2 linked regions of the Homo sapiens genome follow. The protein of the gene in region 1 binds, or shares a complex with, the protein of each later gene. Each region holds a gene or a part of one and is shown on either strand. Other genes may lie near its edges. A codon is read from its position in the direction of its gene.

Region 1 (7,032 bases):
AAAAAGAGCTTATGTGAAAAATAATTATTCTTGCTACACTTTATATAAATAATCAGGCCAAGTATAACAAAGCAAATCAGTCTTACCAAGATTTGCCTTTAGTAAAAATGGGAAACTGGAGAGAGAAATATAATGTTTCAAGAACTTATGGTACACTGGTTATTAGATTCTAGTCTCATCAGTTGTTTTTAAGTTTGTTTCTGCAATTTAGGCTAACCCAGCTTATTCCTGTGAACCAACCAGTGATCTCTGACTGCTGCTCAAAACAAACAAGAGTGATGGTGTCAGGTCTCTGAGCCCAAGCCTGCACGTATTCATTCAGATGGCCTGAAGCAAGTGAAGAATCACAAAAGAACTGAAAATGGCCGGTTCCTGCCTTAACTGGTGACATTACCTTGTGAAATTCCTTCTCCTGGCTCGTCCTGGCTCAGGAGCTCCCCGACTGAGCACCTTGTGACCCCCCACTTCTGCCAGCCAGAGAACAAACCCCTTTGACTGTAATTTTCCACTACCTACCCAAATCCTATAAAACGGCCCCACCGCTATCTTCCTTCGCTGACTCTCTTTTTGGACTCAGCCCGCCTGCACCCAGGTGATTAAAAAGCTTTATTGCTCACATAAAGCCTATTTGGTGGTCTCTTCACATGGACGCGCATGGAAGATGGGTAATGTAAAAATCTGAATCGATATTCTAATTCTGAACACACTGGAATCAGCTAGCAACCCCACATCAGCTTGGTTCCAACAGTTGCCCAGTTCATGGAAAGCCTTCTAATTTAGTTTACTTGGGATAATTTTACTTATTTTGCTTTACTCTTGTGGAATATATTGCTATTGTACTCTTTGTGTAGGAGTGCAGGATAAGCTTACTGAATGTTTTCTTAAACTGAATACTTATTAATCTTCCAGATATCACCTTTTGTCAGAACTTGGAGTTATGAATGGCCCTCACTATACTGATGTTTTCTGAGCTCCTCTCTACTCTGAACATAAGGGACCCTAATAGTTAAGCAGGAATATCATCACCCCTATTCAGCCTGAAGAAGTTACAGAAGATGCATCTTCATCCCTCCGAAACTTTTAGGATTAAAGTTTCTCTCATAATAGGGAGGAGGCAAATGTCAGAGGAATGTGAACCAGAGCAACTCCATCTTGAATAGGAGCTGGGTAAAATGAGGCAGAGACCTACAGGGCTGCATTCCCAGACAGTTAGGCATTCTCAGTCACAGGATGAGATAGGAGGTCAGCACAAGATACAGGTCATAAAGACCTTGCTGATAAAACAGGTTGCAGGAAAGAAGCTGGCCAAAACCCACCAAAACCAAGACGGCGATGAGCATGACCTCTGGTCATCCTCACTGCTACACTCCCACCAGCGCCATGACAGTTTATAAATGCCACGGCAATGTCAAGAAGTTACCCTATATGGTCTAAAAAGGGGAGGCATGAATAATCCACCCCTTGTTTAGTATAAAATCAAGAAATAATCATAAAAATGGGCAATCAGCAGCCCTCAGGGCTGCTCTGTCTATAGAGTAGCCATTCTTTTATTGCTTTACTTTCTTAATAAACTTGCTTTTGCTTTGCACTGTGGACTTGCCCTGAATTCTTTCTTGTGTGAGATCCAAGAACTCTCTCTTGGGATCTCGATCGGGACTGCTTTCCTGTAACATCTCCTTTTGCTTGGCAAATCTGATCCTGAAATCTTTTGGTGCTAGGTTGTGGGAAAGGTGGGAAGGACTGATTCACTTTTTCATTCTGAGCACCACCCACAAACTTTTGGGGGCTGAAATCTCAAGTTCAGGAGTTTCTCAGGGATGCTGTGGCAGTCTAGGAAGTGCTGGCCATTCCTGAGGCCCTGGCAGGGACAGTTGGGACTAGACGATGGTGGCAGGTGAGGGAGACTCAGAAGGTGTTGATTCCATATCTTGAAGATCTTCTATCCATTTTACAGATGAAACAGTCCCAGAGAGTAAATGTCATCTCTATGCAGCTGTCCCCAAATTTCTACCTTTAGCCCTGACTAGGCCCTAGGCTCCAGGCAACCTGGGTATGTCCCAGTCATCTAAAGAATAAAGGCTGGCTGCAGTGGCTCATGCCTGTAATCCCAGCACTTTGGGAGGCTGAGGCGGGTGGATCACTTGAGGTCAAGAGTTCAACATCAGCCTGGTCAACATAGTGAAAACTCATCTCTACTAAAAATAAAAAAAATTAGCCGGGCATGGTGGCAGGTGCCTGTAATCCCAGCTACTCGGGAGGCTGAAGCAGGGGAATAGCTTGAACCTGGGAGGCAGAGGTTGCAGTGAGGCCCACTGCACTTCAGCCTGGGTGACAGAGTGAAACTCCATCTCAAAAAATAAACAAAAATACACTCTTACTTCCCCAGCTCCTGGCACTTACACTGCCCCAGGCTCCTCCCTTACCCCATCTATCCATCCAGCAATGACAAAAATCCAAAATTTTCCTCTGCTCTTCCCTAGCACTTACAGCATTCCTATTGATTCTAGCCCAAATAGATCTCAAAACTGTCCCCCTCCTCTCCATCTGGAAGTTGCCTCCTAGTCTGCCTCTGTTGCTGCCACAGACTTCCCAGCATCCGCCTGTTCTGCCTTTGCCTCCACCCCCTCCCATTCCCAGTCAGCAACCTACTGGAAGTTGCAAATTCCTAATTTGGCAGCCTGCAGCTGTGATCCATAGAAGGGAATGTTTGGAATGTCTTGGGGATGGGTGGAGACTGGGTGCTCAATTGTCCCATCTGACCCCCAAGGGCCAAATTAAGACTAATGAGCTTCCAGAGGTTGTCCCTATGGCCAAGTGTTTGGCACCTCCCCATAAGGGAGGAGACCACCCCTCATATTGTCTTATGCCCAATTTCTGCCTCCAAAGAAAGAAAAAGTAAAAACTAAAAGGCAGAAATGAAATCCACAAACAGACAGCCTGGTGCCACACCCTGGGCCTGGTAAAGATCGACCCCGACCTAATCGGTTATGTTAACTATAGATTACAGACATTGTATAGAAAAGCACTGTGAAAATCCCTATCCTGTTCCAGTCTAATTACCGGTGCTTGCAGCCCCTAGTCACATACCCCCTGCTTGCTCAATCAATCATGACCCTCTCACGCACACCTCCTTAGAGCTGTGAGCCCTTAAAAGGGACAGGAATTGCCCATTCAGGGAGCTCGGCTCTTGAGACAAGAGTCTTGCCCATGCCCCTGGCCGAATAAACCCCTTCCTTCTTTAACTCGGTGTCTGAGGAGTTTCGTCTGCGGCTTGTCCTGCTACATCCATAGGGCCGCCCTTCTCTAAAGTTGTTGTAACCTTCCCCCAAGCAGGAATCCACTTCTGCTTTAGGAAGCAGTGGGAAAAAGACCATGCTTTAGAGTCAAGACAGTCCTAAATTAAAATATCGGCTCATTTAATCAATTTCTGCTTCAGTTTAACCGTCTTCAAAATGGAGATAATAATAACACTAATTACCCAAGTGGGGTACTGTGAGAATGAGCTATACAGCACATATCTCAATGCTTGGCTCACAGTAGGTGCTTAATGCAATCAATGAAAGCTATGATGTGCATTATAAGGAATCAACAGACAGCACTGTCCAGGGAAGACTAGACTCACTCATGAAGTGTTAAGTTCCCCATCAGTAGAGCGTGTGCAAGCACTTCTTGGTGCCCAAAGGATTCCAGCACCCACAACAGGTTGGCCTAACTCTTAAGGTCTCTCCAGCTTCCAGAGATCATGCTCCTCAGGGTCTGACTTCTAGTCCCCACGCTTCAAGTAACACCGACCAGGCACGTGTGCCCAGCGTGCACCCCGCCTGTCGGTCACCGCCTACTGTCAATAAAGTTGATTTGAGGCGGCTCCAGGCAGAGGGGCACGGCCACCCACACGCCACCTCAGCCCGGCCCCGCGGCCCCTCACCCGGTGGGCGGGTGGGCGGGTCACGCAGCCGGCGCGCCTTGCCATTGGCCCGCGCCGGTGGAGGCGGGGCCTGCTCACGTCTGCCGGCCCCTCTGTTGTCGTTTGGCAGCGGATAGAGGACACGACCAAGATGGCGGCGGTGTCTGGCTTGGTGCGGAGACCCCTTCGGGAGGTAGGCAGCAGCGCGCGGCCTGTATTCCCACGCGACCCCTGCCCACCCTGCGTCCCGCCGTCATCTTCCTCTCTCCCTGCCAGGTCTCCGGGCTGCTGAAGAGGCGCTTTCACTGGACCGCGCCGGCTGCGCTGCAGGTAACAGGCGCGGGTGCTCGTCGGACGAGGGCGGGGAGGGTCCCCCCTTCTCTCGGGAAGGAGGCCGGAGTCGCGCCTGCGCTGTGGCCTTCCGGCGCCGTGGGCCTTGGGTTTGCGGAGCCAGCATCCTCCGTGGAGCTCCTGCTGCCTCTGTCGCCGCCTGGCAATTAGCACACCGGCGAGTCACCACCTCACAGCTGGCTGGGCAATGGGGGAAAACTAAGACTAGGCGTTTCCTCCCTCACTCCATGTTTTTTTCTTTAAATTGCAGCAAAATAGACCTAACTTAAAATGTACTTTTTAGAAGTGTATAATTCAGTGGCATTAAGTACATTCACCATGTTGTACAACCATTAACCACCATCCATTTCCAGAACTTTTTAATCATCCCAAGCAGAAACTGTCCATTACTCGGTAACTCCTCATTTCCCTTCCCCAAACCCCTGGTAACCCCTGTTGTACTTTTCTGTCTTTATGAGGTTGCCTATTCTAGAACTTCTTATAAGTGGCATCATTTGTCCTTTTGTGTCTGGCTTATCTCAGCGTAATGTCCTCAAGGTTCATCCATGTTGTAGCATGCGTCAGAGTTTGATTCTTTCCTAAGGCTGAATAATATATATATGTATATTTTTTTGAGATAGTCTCCCTCTGTCACCCAGGTTGGAGTGCAGTGGCGCGATCTCAGCTCACTGCAACCTCCACCTCCTGGGCTCAAGGGATTCTCGCGCCTCACACTCCTGAGTAGCTGTGATTAGATGCCGGTGCCACCACACCGGGCTAATTTTTGTATTTTTAGTACAGACAGGGTCTCACCATATTGCCCAGGCTGGTCTTGAACTCCTGGCCTCAAGTGATCTGCCTGCCTTGGCCTCCCAAAGTGCTAGGATTACAGGCATGAGCCACCTCGCTCAGCCCGACATTTTCTTTTTTTTTTTTGAGACGGAGTTTTGCTCTTGCTGCCCAGGCTAGAGTGCAGTGGCACTATCTCAGCTCACTGCAATCTCTGCCTCCTGGGTTCAAGCAATTCTGCCTCAGCCTCCCGAGTAGCTGGGATTACAGGCACCCGCCACCACACCCGGCCAATTTTTGTATTTTTAGTAGAGAATGGGTTTCACCATGTTGGCCAGGGTGGTCTCGAACTCCTGACCTCAAGTGATCCACCTGCCTTGGCCTCCCAGAGTGCTGGAATTACAGGTGTGAGCCACCGTGCCTGGCCTTGTTTTGTCTATTGTGAGTAATGCTGCTGTGAACATTGATGTGCAAGTATATGCTTGAATCCCTGCTTTCAATTATTTGGGGCATATACATAGAAGTGGAATTGATGGATTGTATGTTAATTCTCCTCTCCTTCCTTTTTTTAACTAGATTTTACCATTCATTATATTAAAAGAGCAACTCCTACATTCTGGATGCAAAGTATTTGGCAGTACTTGGCACCTAGTGAGCACTCAGTACATTAACACATGCAAAGACCAACTATGTGTAATAGAAATGTTACTTTTAGAATTCTTTGAGTTTTTAGAGAGAAGCTTGTTCTAGTGTTTTTATATTGTATGCTGTGGGCAGCCTAGGTAAATATAAAGGAAGAAAATCTTAGTTGAATCCCAAACAATTCTGTATTGACTGTTTTTGCATACCTGTGACAGGTGACAGTTCGTGATGCTATAAATCAGGGTATGGATGAGGAGCTGGAAAGAGATGAGAAGGTATTTCTGCTTGGAGAAGAAGTTGCCCAGTATGATGGGGCATACAAGGTAACTAAAATATATGAAAGTTATACAAAATTGAGGTCACTGTTACCCCCAGATACACTTAAGGGATCAACTCTTAATTGTAGGTTAGTCGAGGGCTGTGGAAGAAATATGGAGACAAGAGGATTATTGACACTCCCATATCAGAGGTAAGCCTTCCAGTGGGAAGCAGACCCTGGAGGGCATGTCTGTTAGTGTCCATTATCCTCATTTTTATGGATTTTCACTTATGTTTATATTTTACTTTATAGATGGGCTTTGCTGGAATTGCTGTAGGTGCAGCTATGGTATGTAATACTCTTTATGAAACTTATCCAAAGACATTTCTTGTTTTCTTTTTTTTTCTTTTGAGACAGAGTCTCACTCTGTTGTCCAGCCTGGAGTGCACTGGCACCATCTCAGCTTCCAGGTTCAAGCAATTCTCCTGCCTCAGCCTCCATAGTGGCTGGGGTTACAGGTCGCGCCACTGTGCCTAGCCAATTTTTGTGTTTTTAGTAGAGATGGGGTTTTACCATGTTGGCCAGGCTGGTCTTGAACTCCTGGCCTCAAGTGATCCGACCGCCTTGGCCTCCCAAAGTGCTGGGATTACAGGCGTGAGCCACTGTGCCCATCCCCAAAGAGATTTAACATCACCTTTTAAAAACATCATTTGGGAAAAAAAAAAAATACCAAGTAGGTAGATGTGGTGGTGCTTGCCTGCAGTCCCAGCTACTCGGGATGCTGAGGAAGGATTACTTGAGCCTAGGAGTTAGAGGCTGCAGTGAGCTATGATGTGTGCCACTGCACTCCAGCATGGGTGACAGTGAGACCCTGTCCATAAAAAATAAAAATAAAAAATAAAAACATTATTTGAATGTTGGAAGACTTGGAGTGATTTGTTTGCTACTGTTTGTTGCTGTTTCTAGTCTTTTTAACATCCACGTTTTTGATTTTACAGGCTGGGTTGCGGCCCATTTGTGAATTTATGACCTTCAATTTCTCCATGCAAGCCATTGACCAGGTTATAAACTCAGCTGCCAAGACCTACTACATGTCTGGTGGCCTTCA
Region 2 (7,030 bases), on another chromosome or scaffold:
CTAGGTTTAAAAAAAAACAACACATAATAGAATCTTAATATATTAGAAAGGAAAAGAAACAGTCCGGATATAATTTTGTGCTGTTAATTCTTCATCATTCACTAACTGATGAGAACAAGGACCCCAAAATGAAGTTGACAAGATAAAGCAATTAATGTACTGAAATATAAATAGGAAGGGGAAGGTATGGCTCCACTGCTAGAGGTTCCTGCTTACTTATAAAACAGCAGACACCTAAAAGGAAACATTATAAATCACCATCCAAATCTACTCATCTCTCAAACGGTAGGATATGAAGCACTAGGTCTTTAAAAGCAAACCAAGCCCCCAAAATAGTCACGCGTCACTTAACAACAGGGATATATTCTCAGAATTGCATCACTAGGCGATTTTGTCATGTGAACACCATACTGTAATGCACGAACCTAGATGGTACAGCCCACTGCACACCTAGGCTGTATAGTAGAGCCTACTGCTCCTAGGCTACAACCCTGCACAGCATGTGACTCTACTGAATCCTGTAGGCAAAATATTTGTGTACCTAAACGTAGAAAAGGTAATGTGTTGTGCCACTACAACATCACTAGGCGACAGGAATTTTTCAGCTCCATTATAATCTTATGGGTCCAACATCATATATGCGACATTGACCAAAGCGTCACTGTGCAGCACATGGCTGTACTACTTCAGGAAAAGTTGTCTGGGGCTGTGAAAGTTTTTGAAGACAAAGTCCAGGGCCAAATCTAAAGCAGCACACAATCCTCGTCCTTGACTACCTGCGCTCCCACGATGCCATTGCCCCCGTAGAAGTTCTTGGCATACATGTGCATCGATCCTCCTTTCCCTTTAGCACAACCTCCTTTTCGTCCTGGAAATGGCAGAACATACACATGTGCAGAACAAACCAACTCTACAAAGCAAACCAAACCGCACCCCAAATATGTACTCTGAGGCTCAACCATTAGAACACAGAGGCCAGTTCAGTCGTCTAAGTACCTGTCCCTCCAGGCAAACACATGTTTCTCCTTGTCCTTTCACTAGTTCCATGTGCTTCAACCTTTCCAGCTTTTCCTACTCTCTAGTCACTTAGTTTCCTTCAGATGTTCCATCCAGATGATACCCTGGACTTTTCTGGGTTTTCTGGCCAGTTACAAACATCTTAGGACCTCTCCTATACTAGTACACTAAATATATTCAATCCTTGAACAGGGTTTGAACTGCACAGGTACACTTATACACAGATTTTTTTTCAGCCACACATGTATTGAAAATAGAATATTCTCAGGATGCAAACCCGAAGATATGGAAGGCTGACTTTGGGACTTGAGTATTTGAGGATTTTTGTATACTCGAGGGTCCTAGAACCAATCCCCTGGATATATAGAGGGACAACCATAGTTCAAGAGTCAAGGAGGGCCGGGCACGGCGGCTCACGCCTGTAATCCTAACATTTTGGGAGGCCGAAGAGGGTGGATCACCTGAGGTCAAGAGTTCAAGACCAGCCTGGCCAACATGGTGAAACCTGGTCTCTACTAAAAATACAGAAATTAGCCAGGTGTGGTGGTTGGGCACCTATAATCCTAGCTACTCAGGAGGCTGAGGCAGGAGAATTGCTTGAACCCGGGGGGCGGAGGCTGCAGTGAGCCAAAATCATACCACTTCACTCCAGCCACTCCAGCCTGGGTGAAAGAGTGAAACTCTGTCTCAAAAAAAAAAAAAAAAAAGGAGGAGGAGGAGGACCGGGCACAGTGGCTCACGCCTGTAATCCTAGCATTTTGGGAGGCTGAGGCAGGCCACTGCACTCCAGCCTGGGCAACAAAGCGAGACTCTGTCTCAAAAAAACAAAACAGGCCAGGTGCGGTGGCTCACGCCTGTAACCCCAGCACACTTTGGGAGGCCAAGGCAGGTGGATCACCTGAGGTCAGGAGTTGGAGACCAGCCTGGCCAACATGTTGAAACCCCATCTCTACTAAAAATACAAAAATTAGCCAGGTGTGGTGGTGCATGCCTGTAGTCCCAGCTACTCAGGAGGTGGAGGCATGAGAATCACTTGAACCCGGGAGGTGGAGGTTGCAGTGAGCCGTGATCACACCACTGCACACCAGCCTGGACAACGGAGTGAGACACAGTCTCAAAAAAAAAAAAAAAAAAAAACCACCAAAACAAACAAATAGTCACGGGGGACAAAGAAAAGGGGAATATTAAGAAGATTTCTAGAATTTACATTGCATACCATGGAGTGCTTCAACCGAACTTACTTTCTATGACTGCTAGACTTCTTCTGGCATGCTTGAATGATAACCAAACCTACTGTGATTTTATAGCACCAACCTGTTTTAAACTTTTACCTGAGGGGCCAGAGAACTTCACAAATGGTCAGTTAACTCAAGAGCACAACAGAAGTACCAGAGCACCAAAGGAGAGAGGGTTAAAAAAAGAAACTTAAAATTTTTAACAAATATTAACTCATAATAGCATCTTAATGACAGATATTTAAAAACTTAATCCACTCATTTCCCCTTTCTGTAAATCAACAGCAAACCTGTAAGCTCTGCGAGAATTTCTCGGACGGAAAGGCCCCGGGTGAAAGTAAAGCCGTGAGCCCGGTAGGCTGTGATGAGATGGTCTGTGGGGTTGATGCCGGCCTCCAGGCCCACACAGCAAGCTTCCTGTGTTAGAGGAAGGAGAAACTATGAGGCAATATGATACATGTTTCTAAATAAAAACGTTTCCTAGACCACAGTGAAATATGTGGGCTAGTAGAACCTGTCATTAATAACCAGAGAAAGTAGCTATTTTCCACCAAAATACAGAGTGGAAGGCCCAAACCAGAAGCAATAAACTGGCAACCCACACATGTGCCACTTCCTTCCTTTCTCCTGTATGATGACCTAAAAGAAAAGCCTACATCAGATGTCAACATTAAAACACTGGGGAATTTCACATGAAAATCCAGACTTCCGCCTTCTCTTAGACATGGAAAACAGGAAACATTACCCCTGATTTCCACATGGCACCAACTGGCTGGAACCAAGTCATGGCATTCCTCTGGGTAGGGCATGCTGGTGCCAGTTCAGCATGAGTCCCTGTCACCATTTTCTGTTTTGTATACCTAGCCTTCTTCACTCATTTATTCTACCTGGCTGGCCCTTGTAGGTATTTGACTCTAACCCTTGACCTAAGCCCACAAAACAAAAAACAAACTAATCCTTTCTCTCCAAATTATATACAGTACAGGCGATCATAGTGCCAGAAAGTTTTAAAATAGTAAAACTCTAAGAACAGGTACAGAAAACTGGCAATGTTATGTGTGAATGAATTCTTTAGCCTAAGCTTCATAGCAGGTTTTGGCATTCTACTTTTTAATTCTAAAATACTGGCTTCAGCCAGGCACAGTGGCTCACGCCTGTAATCCTAGCACCTTGGGAGGCCAAGGTGGGCGGACCACTTGAGCCCAGAAGTTTGAGACTAGCCTGGGCAACATAGTGAAACCCCGTATCTCCAAAAAATACAAAAATTAGCTGGGTGTGTTGGTGTGCACCTGTGGTCCCACATACTCGGGAGGCTGAGGTGGGAGGATTGCTTGAGCCCAGTGGACAGAGGCTGCAGTGAGCCAAGATCACACTGTACTCTAACCAGAGGCTGCAGTGAGCCAAGATCACCACTGTACTCTAACCTGGGCGACAGAGAGAGACTGTCTCAAAAAAATAAATAAATAAAAGAAAATTACATTACCAGCCTCAAACTCTTCTGATACATATGGCAGGGTAAAGCCCAATAAGTACAAGCCATACTTCAGTACCTAAATAACACAGTTCCACCACAAACCTACCACTCACCTGACCATCACACAAGTGACAGAAACCACGAATAATTTTCTGTTTATACAGCTGATCTGCTTTCAACTCCATTCGGCGTACAGTCTGCATCATCCTGTAGTATTTGAGCCCATCCTCCCTGGTGAGCACTGTTGTGACAGGAGGGCCTTCTTCCAGCCGGTGAAGGTCACATTTCTGAAATGGAATAAGGTAGTTATTATCCTCCACATACTACATTGCAAACACTGTTGACCACTCTAAGATCTAACTCCATTGCAAATAATATTGAACTTGAAAAACTGCAAAGGAGCACATCAGTAATGCTTCATATCGCCTCTGTTCCTTAAATCCATAAACCTCACTGTGCAATGAGATGGGGCTTGGGGGAAGGAAATCTTTCTAAGATGATTTTCACTGAAAGCCCCTAGAAGCCAACTGAGTTATAGGTTGAAAGAACCTTCAAAGAAACAACTAAGACTCTTCTTATTCAAATATTTCACTGAATTACATTCCAAACTTTTGAATAAGCTTTTATTTTTATTTTCATTTTCTAGCTCCTCCCCCTTCCCCCCACAGAACAACAGCAAGCTGCTAATAATAAATTCTAGTTTTCGTGAAGCTTCTCTGAACTTCTGATCCTGGAACATTTAGAAGAAAATGATGACTAAGCATGAACATCAAAATGTTCTATTCTAAAGGTAAAACTGTATATCAGAGTGTACCTGTGAAAAAATTATTAACAAAGTAAAACACCTCTTACCTTAATTTCAAATGTAGCATCATTTGCAAAATTACGGGATGCTACCAGCACTCTGCTTGCCTTAAAAGACAAAAATATACAAACAAATCAGTACTTTTTAATTGTCAGCTATTTTGGAAAGTATAATAATCAGTTATCAGAATGAAGTTATGGAAATTTAATAAGCCCCAACATATTCATAGGCTTCTCTTCCACCCTGTGCACTGTGTTTGCATCTTCCTTGGCCTCCAAAATGAATCCATGCTTTGGCCAATGAAACAGGATTATCCCGCATCTGAAGGCAAGCAGCGCAAAGAGGGGCAAAAAACAAACCCATCCTTTGTTTTCAAAGAAATTATAGTGAGAATATAATGAAATTAGTGGCTAAAGAGACTAGATCATCTGTGAGCTGTGTCTGTTTATGCCATTCTTTTGTTTGTTTGTTTTGAGACGGAGTTTTGCTTTTATCACCCAGGCTGGAGTGCAGTGGTGCGATCTCGGCTCACTGCAACCTCCGCTTCCCGGGTTCAAGTGATTTCTCCTGTCTCAGTCTCCCGAGTAGCTGGGATTACAGGTGCCCACCACCACGCCCGGCTAATTTTTATATTTTTAGTAGAGATGGGGTTTCACCATGTTGGCCAGGCTGGTCTCCAACTCCTGACCTCAGGTGATCCACCTGCCTTGGCCTCCCAAAGTACTGGGATTGCAGGCATGAGCCACTGCGTCTGGCCTTTTCATGCCATTCTTAGTCATAACCAGATACTGTTCATTTTGAGCAAGCCAAAATTATACTTCAAATAAAACTATGATTTAATCTCCACTCTAGGCAAACTTGACTCTTCTATCAAATTGGATCTGTAAGAAAAAATATTTTAAATTGATTGAAGTATGAGATAAATACTTTAGGGAGACAAGACAAAAGAAAAGATACTTAGCACTCTCTGACTTAAACACAATGGGCTTGAGCCAGCTGTTTTATAATTTATAATTTGAACAGCCTAAATCTTGGACAGGCTCCTCCTGAAGCCCCAGTAGAAATGTTCTCTGAAACACTGTTCTCTTGATGTTTGGGTGGCTGTCACTGTTTGGAGGTAAAAAGCTTGGAGGCGGGGGGTGAGAAATGATTCCTTTCCAGTTTTACAACTGAGCAAACCTGCTCACAGCAAAAGTATTCTATGTAATGGCTAAGGTTTAGGTTAGACCACAAAATTTATCCAGTAGTATTATCATACTATTTTAGCTCCCTTCTGCCACATTCTCACACACTGACGTGTAAACCAACATGATTTCTCCATAAAAAGCACATCTGATGTGTTCATACCTTACCTAATCCAGCACTGGACTGATCTTGGTGAGAAGAGTTAAGACTGATCTGCCAAGTATACCCTGGAGTGTACAAGCCAATAGGCAGAAAGCTAATTACGTATATCTTCACCCCTCAATAGACCATTATTGGACAAAGCCAACAAACACAGACAATGACAGTGCTGGAGGAAAACAACTGAAATACTAGGAATCAGTGTTTCAGTTAACTTACAGGCAGAGACAGTCCACTAATGTATCTCAGAAAAAGTGAAGGAAATTTAGGAATTTGGGAAGAAGTAAAGCTGAGAGAAGGTGAAACAGCAAATCAATGGTTATATTTAGCAATCAAACAGATGTGTTATTCTTGGCAGTTAATAAATATTTTGTGGGGCCAGAAATTTATTGTATTGTGAAATAAATTTCCAAATACAACTACAGAAACTGCAGTTTTTGGAAGGCAGGAGTCCAAACCAGCCAGGCGACAGTAACAGAGAAAAGGTAACTTCTTTCTCAATCCTAGAGTTGAAACAATGAGGCAGGATAATGCTATACAATAAAGAGCAAGAAGGGGCCCAGTGCTGTGGCATGCGCCTGTAATCTTGCGCCTGCAAAGATTAGGACTGCCAGAAAGCTACTTAGATACTTTCTCCCATGGCTTCATTACTGTGTATCTCAAAAATAAGAACCACTGATATGAGTGAAAGGAACAAAGTTAAAGAAGCTAAAAGTCCTATCAGAAGTGTGTGTGTATCATTTCTGAGTGAGAGCTTGTTGAAAAGATAAGTTTACCATTCATTTTCTCTGGAGAGCCATAAAAAGATTCTCTGTTAAATGGGATTCCTCTCTGACAGAGACCACGAACAACCCACTCAAATTTTAAAAAATAAAAACTAGGCCGGGCATGATGGCTCACACCTATAATCCCCAGCACTTTGGGAGGCCAGGGTGGGAGGACCACTTGAAGCCAGGAGTTCAAAGCCAGCCTGGGCAACATGAGACTCTCATCTCTACAAAAATAAATATTAAAAAATTAGTCAGGTATGGTGGCACACACCTGAGGCTACAGTGAGCTATGACTGTGCCACTGCATTCCAGCCTAAAAAAAAAAATTAATTAAAAAAAAGTAAAACTTTAACTTCCTAAATACATAGGAACCATTCATGTGAAA

What was found.
Region 2: the proteins of PDHB (region 1) and PDHA1 are in contact, whole or in part, in a crystal structure (PDB 3EXE), measured with the Homo sapiens proteins. Residues at the interface, in NP_000916.2 of Homo sapiens: Glu59 (codon at 5,959), Gln62 (codon at 5,968), Tyr63 (codon at 5,971), Ala66 (codon at 5,980), Asp84 (codon at 6,117), Pro86 (codon at 6,123), Ile87 (codon at 6,126), Ser88 (codon at 6,129), Glu89 (codon at 6,132), Met111 (codon at 6,950), Phe115 (codon at 6,962), Gln118 (codon at 6,971), Ala152, Gly153, Val154, Ala155, Ala156, Gln157, His158, Pro297, Val323, Arg324, Val325, Thr326, Gly327, Ala328, Asp329, Val330, Met332, Pro333; in NP_000275.1 of Homo sapiens: Ile87 (codon at 3,872), Arg88 (codon at 3,869), Gly89 (codon at 3,866), Phe90 (codon at 3,863), Glu137 (codon at 2,552), Leu138 (codon at 2,549), Thr139 (codon at 2,546), Gly140 (codon at 2,543), Gly148 (codon at 845), Lys149 (codon at 842), Gly150 (codon at 839), Gly151 (codon at 836), Met153 (codon at 830), His154 (codon at 827), Asn164 (codon at 797), Gly165 (codon at 794), Ile166 (codon at 791), Val167 (codon at 788), Gly197, Ala198, Asn200, Gln201, Gln203, Gly228, Met229, Gly230, Thr231, Arg235, Ala236, Asp296.

The regions. Positions count from the first base shown.
Region 1 is NC_000003.12:58,430,833-58,437,864, reverse strand, and holds the start of PDHB (pyruvate dehydrogenase E1 component subunit beta, mitochondrial isoform 1 precursor), read left to right. Parts: upstream 1-4,032; 5' UTR 4,033-4,055; coding exon 4,056-4,097; exon of another isoform or gene 4,098-4,180; coding exon 4,181-4,234; exon of another isoform or gene 4,235-4,270; intron 4,271-5,880; coding exon 5,881-5,988; intron 5,989-6,071; coding exon 6,072-6,134; intron 6,135-6,236; coding exon 6,237-6,272; intron 6,273-6,922; coding exon 6,923-7,032. UniProt on the Homo sapiens protein: The pyruvate dehydrogenase complex catalyzes the overall conversion of pyruvate to acetyl-CoA and CO(2), and thereby links the glycolytic pathway to the tricarboxylic cycle.
Region 2 is NC_000023.11:19,346,920-19,353,949, reverse strand, and holds part of PDHA1 (pyruvate dehydrogenase E1 component subunit alpha, somatic form, mitochondrial isoform 1 precursor), read right to left. Parts: intron 4,639-7,030; coding exon 4,579-4,638; intron 4,014-4,578; coding exon 3,840-4,013; intron 2,691-3,839; coding exon of another isoform or gene 2,670-2,690; coding exon 2,543-2,669; intron 869-2,542; coding exon 777-868; intron 1-776. UniProt on the Homo sapiens protein: The pyruvate dehydrogenase complex catalyzes the overall conversion of pyruvate to acetyl-CoA and CO(2), and thereby links the glycolytic pathway to the tricarboxylic cycle.